Linked DNA regions of Homo sapiens: region 1 is reported to be linked to region 2. The links are microRNA targets in miRTarBase. Many come from high-throughput screens and were not tested one by one. Region 2 holds a microRNA gene; the other region holds the end of a gene's coding sequence.
What was found. Region 2 holds the annotated microRNA hsa-miR-4787-3p (GAUGCGCCGCCCACUGCCCCGCGC, at 2,857-2,880, shown strand). A microRNA usually pairs through its seed, bases 2 to 8, with sites in the 3' UTR of a target mRNA and lowers its output. Matches are read on the target gene's strand: a 7mer-m8 pairs with bases 2 to 8, a 7mer-A1 pairs with bases 2 to 7 and ends in A, and an 8mer does both.

Region 1 (4,000 bases), not on the chromosome of region 2:
AACTCAACAGGCTCTCAAGTTTCAATGAGCCCCTTTATATTATCAATTGTACATACCTATCATTGACTATTAAAACATAACATACACATAAATGTGGTGTAGTAACTATGTAACTTAAGAAATTTAACAGTTCATGGAACATTTAAGATCAAGTGAATAGCACTTTAAAATGAAAAGTGATCAAAAGCAGGTACATTACACCCTATACCATATTATGTATGGGAATACATTTCATATTTCTCAATTATGATTTGCCAATTTTACCTTCTACATTGAGCCCTTCTATGGTCCATGCTCATCGGCTCACCAATGGCATACACTCAAAGGATTCCTCTTTATGGGTAACTATCTCAGGACCTGATTTTATGAGCTATGATTTGGTGCTTGCAGCATCTTCAGCACTGTGTGTGAAAATGAAGGCAGTATTTTTGAATATTTTTCTTTGTTGCAGAGATAAGCAGGAGTTTTAAAAGGATCAGCACATTTTAGAAATCGAATAAACAAAACTGATAAGATGCTGCTTTCATACATTCAACTTAACTCAAAATATGTACCAGTTAAAATCATCTATAAAAACACACAAACATTTTAAACTGGCAAAAAAATTAAATGCAGCGTCAGTTATTAAAATATTATTAAATCAGAAAAATACTGATTGCTACAGATTATGAAAGGTTATTTGCTATACAGTTAACATTTCACTGATGCACATGCCTTTTATCAAAACATACTGCCTTATAACTTTTTCCTTCTTCAGCATATAACTTTTGTCTAAGAAAAAAATCATAATAAAATTCTAACCCATAATATCCTTACTGAATTATTATAGTTTAAGAATAAGAAAAAAATAAAGAAATTATAATTTTGGAGGGCAAAGAAATTTTCTGTCCATCATATAAAACAGATTGTGAAGGCTGTTGAAGTTTCTAAACAAGTGATTTCCTAAATCTTGAAAACTGTGTAATTGTCCTTTCTTAATATTAACACTTCTATATTTGGGGAAAAAATACAAAAAGATTTGGATGTAGTTCAATTACTGCAGCAATCTACTCATCATTTTCTTGTCTTAATAAAAAAAAAAAAGTAAAATAAAAAACATTACCCAGAAATGTAAACAGTTGCTTTAACAACTTACAGACTTTCCACTAAGATGGTAGCATAAAATAACAAAATACATTTTGGGGAAGCAGTAGCAGATTGCCTTTGAATACACAACCACAAAAACCTCACAGGGACAACATTAATGTATTGAAATATTTATTTATATATGTCCTTAGGTTGTGCTTACCTGGTGCTTTTTGCAGCAGAACCTAAGGTGGAAGGTCTGGGAAGGCACTGTGAAGTATAAATAATTGCACTGTTTGCAATTAATAAAGATTTTAAACCTTAAATGAATCAAAATCAACAGCCTCCAATTTGTGAATTATGATACTGAATTCAACTGAACTACTTCTTCAGTTCAATTAATAAATGCACCACTTTCCTAAAAGGTCATCTATAAAACAGTATCATGCAAAATACTGCAATTGTTCACGTCAATACCCTACTCTTAAAGATAACAAATAGCTAACTCCTTAACTATTAAACTTCATACTAGAACTATATATGCAGATCTAAATAAGGGTAAGGGAAGTCACTCTAGGTTATATAAAACAATCAAAAACATTTCAAAATATCTACAATGAACTGTACTGCTATTTCCATCCTGTAGGTAATCTCAACATTTATGTCCTTGTACCTCTTCCTTTAAAGTATATTCAAAACAACAAATGGTGCTCTCCACCAATGACAAAATATATATTTATGAAATGTGTTAAAATTGCTACATTGCTCATTATTTGCAAACTGAAATCCCCTTCTGTCTGATACATTTCAAGACTTTCATATTAAATATAGAAGATATGCATATTTTACACTGAAAAACAATATTTTAGGAGCACCAGTGAATAATACTATTCAACTTTGTTAAGTATCAGTTTTCTTTAGCTATAGCTAAAGCATATAAAAAATACTTACCCATTAAGCTCACTTTAAAAAAAATACAGAACTATGTATTATTCTATGTTAAATTAAGAGGCAGTTATGGTTTTCCAAGATATCAGCACTGTATTCCAACATAATATTCACACAACGTATGGCATTTGCATTATGTGGAACATTGACAAAAAGATACTGTTGCAGTTCATCAATTTGTCATTCTGATGTACTTACAGTGCAATGCTCCTTGAAGGAACACAATCAAGGATGATACACAGCACAGTCCTCCTCACCCCTACAGAGCTAGTTCTATACTGGCTGGATCAAACCTGCACTTCAACAGACAATGGCAAGACAGACTGTATTTGCATGTAGTCTAATATATTAATATGCAAAGAGCCAACAAATATGCAAAGAGTAAAACAATGGATTTCAACAAAATATCAGAACTTCAGCATGAGTGTTAAAGAGTAATAAAATGACTTCAAGTACATAAAAAAATTAAGTTGATTCAATGATTGGACTTGTGCATTTACAAAACAAAGCTTATCTATACTGCATAAAGAAAAAAAAAAAGCTTGAACGTTTCCATACCCCATTTATGTTTCAATGGCAGATGCAATGTAGCTATACTTTTTGCACACTATTCACTTTTCTATCCTAAATTTAGAAAGAAACACACTAACATTATATACATTGAAAGAGTTGCTTCACATGGAAAAAAACTGTTCTTATTAGACTACTCATATTCACTATCTGAAAACTGTTTAAAATTAGTTATGCCGAAACAGTCTTGGAAATCAAGTATTATCAAATTAAGAACAGAAAGGTTAACTGTTATAGCAGCAGTACAGGTCTGAAACAGTGGTCATGTATAAAAGGAAATTTCACTGTTAATGCAATGGAAGTATGCCAAAAGATCATTGTACACACATGCAGTTTTTAATCAAACAGAAGGAAAAAAAATGAAGATATCAGGATTACTTGTGCTGAAAGAGCCAATACAATAAATGGAAAAGATCCTCCAATCTACCACTATACTGCAAGGGGGGAAAAACATGCCAGTGTTTAAAAACTCAATATTTCATGGGGAAAGCTTATATATTTGTGTATATGTATCTTAATTTATCATTGCTAAGAAATTATGAATCCTTTAAATACCCACATATCCAACTTACCGACACAGGAGGTTTCATATCATTTATTGTAAAGCACAAAACAGGCATTTTAAAAGTGAAAGTATACATTGAAAAAGTACATTTATATCACAAAGCATCAACCACATAATTGCAAATACATTTGCTGGAATGTGTACATCTACACTAAATACTAAAAACAAACCAATTTTCATTTCTACACAGAAATATTAACCTCCTATCAGTAGTGATAGATATTTTGTACATTTTCAAAAAAAAAAAAAAAAAAGGAAACACTATTTTAAACCAAAAACAAAATTAAGATCTTCATCAAGTCGTCTGCATCCATATATTTAACAAAGGTTTTTTTCCCCCACACAATGAAGCAAATACTGTATTGTCCACTTCTTATTATTGGCCCTGTGCAGAAGAGATACATAAGAAATACACAAAAAGTTAAAGAAAATCCTTGAAATGGAGCTAATTCAGGAGTGAATCCTTTAAGAAAGAAAAAGTGGTTAATATAAATGGTGGTGGCTTCTTGCATGATTTGCAAATCCCTGGGGGAAGAAAATTTATTTTTAAAATCAAAGGCATTGCAGAAATATTCACCACTCAGATGCTGGAAAGCATTATAAAAAACAAAAAAACCCAAACAATACACCGTAGTACTTCATTTAAATAGTTATTATACTTTGCCAGATAAAAATTTAAAAGGCAAACACTCCCAAACAGACAAACAGTAAACATGCAGAAAACAGACTGGAGTAGAAATCAACAAATTAGCAATTACATTATACCTGAGGTGCTGGAGGATGCTGTGGCATTCCCTGGGGACTTGTCTGGGCATAATAGGCTGCTTGTTGTCTATAATACTCAGCCCAGGC
Region 2 (4,534 bases):
AACAGATGTTTGCCAATGTGAGAAGCAGACCCATTTGATCTCTTGGAGAAGGGTGGAATGAGTAAGTGCTACAGAAAAGGTCATAATGGGTGCAAAAAATCCAGCTGAACTGAGGGCAGTTGGGGAAGCCTTCTTCAGGAAAGTGGCCCTGAGACAGCTCTTGAAGCATGATGCAGATGTGTGGGTTTCAAGAGTAGAGGACACAAGCTGAGGGACACTCTATGCAAAAACCCAGCCAGAACAAGGCAATGGTCTGAAGTTGGGATGGCCCTGGGGAATTCTGGGAAAGTAGTTTCCAGGAGGTGACAGGGTCAGAACGCAGACCTTCAGGTGGTGAGAATCAAATGAATTACATTGAAATAAAAGGATTTGGAATGGATGATTCTCCTCTGTAGTCAGATGGAGAGAGGAGGAAGAGAGAGGGAATGGGGGGATGAGGGTACCAACAGGGCAGGTCTTCCTGGGACCGCAGGAGTCTGTGGAGCAGGTCAGGGTGAAAATGGGAGACAGGGCAATGATAGTTGGGGATCCTGAGAAGTAGCAGGCAGTGAGCCTGGTGGTGGCGAGAACACAAAGAAGAGCAGTTGGAGAGGAGGGGAGGTTACTGTGCTGAGGGTCTCGATTTTCAGAGGCAAGCTGGAAGGCAGCTCATATGCTGAGAGAGTGTGTGTGTGGTGTGTTGAGTGGACTGGGAGCCTGAGGAAGGAAAGGATCAGAGCAGATGCTAGGGGGATAAGAGAGCAGGTGCATGGTCCTGCTGAAGGCCAATGTGTGCTATGCCCTTTTGCTTCAACTCACAAAAACAATCTAAATTTATACAAACAGCAAGAGTGTAGGAGTCCAGGCTTACTAAGTCCCTTCCTTCTCACTTTGGTCCCTTCTTTTCCCTTCCCTGGTTGGGTTTAATGCCCTTCCACCCTGGAGCTGAGGTGTGCAATCATGGAGAATTTTCTTCATCTGGGAAAGCCATAATCTAAGATGGATTCAGACTGGGAACAAGAGTATAAACTTTGGAAAAACTGGCCCTTAGGCTCTGTGACTGTCATCACATACAGCAGACAAGGGAGTGAACTTAGAGGATGAAATAAGAGCTTTAAGGTTGTTCCCTGAAGGCCTGCGTAGCTCAGCCCCACTTGTTGAATAGCTACCTGGAGAGTTTTGTAAGAATGTGGCTTCATTCCATAGAATACTTCCATGGTGGCCACCGGGGAGGGGTCTATCTTCTTGGAACAGTTAGCTCTTTCGTTATGTTCTTGGACACCCCTGCTACCCCTAAAAAGAAGTGTACCTGGCTATTGAGAAATTCTATCATTCACAGAACAGACATTTTTCTGGGCGGGAGTGGGCAGCTATGATTAGTGAGAGGAGGAGCCTAAAGGTCCGAAGGTGGGAAGGGGTGGCCATAACCCAGGGGAGCACAGTCAGGCCTGGGAGGAGTTACCAATCATGACACTTTGAACGAAGAATCAACAAGATCTGTTGATTGCAAGATATTCTTCTATTAGTCTGGCTTCCCATGCAACAACTATACAACAGGTGCTGGGTTGGTGGTGAGGGTTTAGAAAGTTGATTTTAGCCTGGAGCTTGCCTTCTGGGAGCTGACAGTCTTATAAGGGAAATAAGACAAACCGAACATAGCTCCAATTCCAGACAAAGAAGGAAAGGAGACTATGGGTCAGGGCAGGCTTCCTGGAGGTGAGGGGCTGAGCTGGGCTTTGAAGAGTGGTGGTGTCTGAGAGTGCTAGTGAAGGATGACACCAGGGTTTTGACTTAGTAGTGCTAGTGACAGAGATGGGCAAATCTGCTGGGATTAGAGCATGTGGTCCAAATGTAGGTGGAAAGGAGAAGTCCTGCAGTTCCTGTTCTTTGGTAAGTGGTTGACTTGGGGGTCACAAGGTGACATTTACAGGCATCAGAATGAATGGATTCTTAGGGAGGAGAGAGAGGAGGAAAGTTTCCGGTAGGAGCCAGTTCTTAGGGCTCCAAGGGAGGCAGACACCCAGGAGCAGCAGATGCCGTGTCCTGGGTAGGAACACGAAGGGCCCAATGAAGCTCTTCCTTACTAGCAAGGCGGCTGTTGATTGTTCTGGCCCCAAACATTCACCACTCAGGCCATCTCAGAGAAGCAAGAACCCAGGAGGTGTCAGCGGCCTCAGCCCACAGGGGATCCAGGAGAGAGGGGCACGAGTGCACCCCACCTGGTTCCCTCGTGGCGACTCCATCCTGCGGGCCCTGGGAATGCACAGGGTGGCTCCGGGGACCTTTCCGACAGCACTGTGGGTGACACTGGGATGGGTCTGAAAATGGTGTCGTGTCCTCCTTTTCTGGATCTCCCCTCTCCGACCAGGAGGCCTGTGGCCATCTCGGGGCGCAGGCAGGAGGCACTGGAAGCGGAAGCGAGTGGGGAGTCCGGGTAGAGGGAGTCGCCCACCTGACCGGCTTCGCCCCCTCCGGGGTTTGCTGCAGCTGAGGGCCCCGGACCAGCGATTCTAGAAGCCGGTCCGGGGCCGGGCAGTCCAATAGCTTCTCGCGGATTTCCCTCCGCTGGCGCGCAGCAGCGGCGCGTGGATTCGCGCGCGGGCTCGGGACGGCGCGAGCCCGGGCAGCGCGAGCCCCTGCGCGGCAGGGAGTGGCGCATGCGCGGGCGTCCTGCGAGCCCGCTGGGGCGAGCCGAGCCGCGGCGGCGCCGGGAGCCGGGCGGCGGAGCTGTGAAGAAGCAAGCGGCGGCACGGGAGCAGCGGCGACGGACAGGTGGCGAGCCTTCGCCCGCGCCGCCAGGGGCTGCTGGGCCACCCGCGGAGCCTCGCGGTCCAGACGTGGCGGGGGTGGCGGCGGCATCCCGGACGGCCTGTGAGGGATGCGCCGCCCACTGCCCCGCGCCGCCTGACCGTCCCCGCCTCGACTCGCGGTGCGCCACAGCCGGGCCCGCGGCCGTCCCCGCCGCGTTGTCGCCCGGTCGCCGCGCCCGCGGGGCCGCGCCCGGCACGGCCATGTGGACCCCCACGGAGGAGGAGAAATACGGCGTAGGTAGGTGAGGCTCAGGCCTGGCCGTGGCGGGGGTTCTGGGGGACGCGCCCAGCTCCCGGCCCCGCCTGGATTCGCATCCTCGTGCCCCCGCCACTGCCCGCAGGCTGCGCGGCCTCGGCGCGGGGCGAGCGCGGGGTGGGGGCAGGTGCGGGTGCGGGTGCGGGTGCGGGGGTGGGCGCGGGTCTCTGTGCAGAGAGGGCGGCAGGGGGCGCTGGCGGTGCGGCCTTGGCAGGTGCGGCCCGCGGGAGGGGTGGGCAAGGCCCGGGCAGTTGCCCGAGGTTTCTGGTGTGGGCCACGGGGCAATTTTACCCGATAAACCAAATTCTGGGAATATGTTTTCTCCCCTCCAAAAGCTCGATTTTAATGAGTTTCCGCACCTGAATTGATGAGCCCGATGGCTGTTTATTTTTGATCTGGAACCTTACAAGAAAACGGATGAAAAACGTTGACATCATTTTCCCAGTTCAAAAATTTGGACATTTGACTGCAAATGTTTGATCTGTTTTAATTTGTTTTGCCTTTAGTATTAGAAATAATACCTTACGATGGGAAATGTTTTTGGACATGTATCAATGTTTATACGGTTTTTTTTTTAAACCCTGTTTTCAGATGAGACCTTATTCCTCTTAGAAACCTTTTTTTAATGTTGTAAGTGTTAAACTCCAGAAGCTAAATAATTCTTACAATATTCAACTTCTTTAAAAAGAATATTCAGTAATTTAAAGTATTGAATGTTTTACAATGTTAGTGTTTTGTGGCAATTACATGATAGAGTTAAGCCTCATTGCATCACCTATCATCTTGTTCAGTTAGAAACAGATTTAAAATGTTGAGTGTACAGGTTTTGTTTTTCCTAAGCTCGTAATGGAAAATTTTAGATAGGAAACCTGTCTAAACATAGATTTTTGTTTCCCATCTTTACCGCAATTTAATCAAGATTTAGTTCACAATTCACTACAAAATAACTTGAAACTGCAGTGGTAACGAATGTTTTGGAATGCTATCAGGCAGGTTATCGTGTGAAAATTGAATTTATTTAAATTCGAGGACCAGCAGAGAGGTCTTCTATTCTGGTAGAAGATCTTGTTTTAAAAGGTAACTTTCTGAAACAATTAGGTATGTTAGGATGGAGGTGATAAAGGGAGCTCTGGTCCTAGAGTCTCTATTGAGAAGGAATTGAGAAATGATGCGAAGAGCTGGGATTCACCTCTAGGGACATTTTACCCCTTCTCTTAGAGTATTCCCTGAATACTGAGTTGATTCTGTGAAGTGAGGAGTTGGTGGTTTATCTTCTCCATAACTCGCTCCCAGAACTGCTGAACTAGAATAACAAATAATTGATGTGAGTGGTCAACTCTCCAGTGGCACCCCATGATTGATTTTTTTGGAGGGGGGAGGAGCCCTATTTTGGCGGGGGTGGGGGCGTGGGGGGAGGAGCCCTTGAATAGTGGACAAAGTGGAATTCAGAGTCCTAGCTTCTCTTTACTGGTGGTGTGGGCAAGTAATT

Region 1: miRTarBase lists FUBP1 as a target of hsa-miR-4787-3p. The part of its 3' UTR that is shown has no 7-base or 8-base seed match.

Annotation. Positions count from the first base shown.
Region 1 is chr1:77,945,242-77,949,241 of GRCh38, forward strand. It overlaps FUBP1 (far upstream element binding protein 1), which reads right to left. Exons shown (of 20, transcript NM_003902.5): 19 at 3,914-4,000; 20 at 1-3,533. The coding sequence ends at 3,525. Among named protein-coding and RNA genes, the nearest start is that of FUBP1, 32 kb to the right of the region's middle.
Region 2 is chr3:50,672,274-50,676,807 of GRCh38, forward strand. It overlaps MIR4787 (microRNA 4787), which reads left to right and starts at 2,807; the gene lies at 2,807-2,890. It overlaps DOCK3 (dedicator of cytokinesis 3), which reads left to right and starts at 2,654. Exons shown (of 53, transcript NM_004947.5): 1 at 2,654-3,027. The coding sequence starts at 2,991. RefSeq lists a silencer at 2,618-2,907.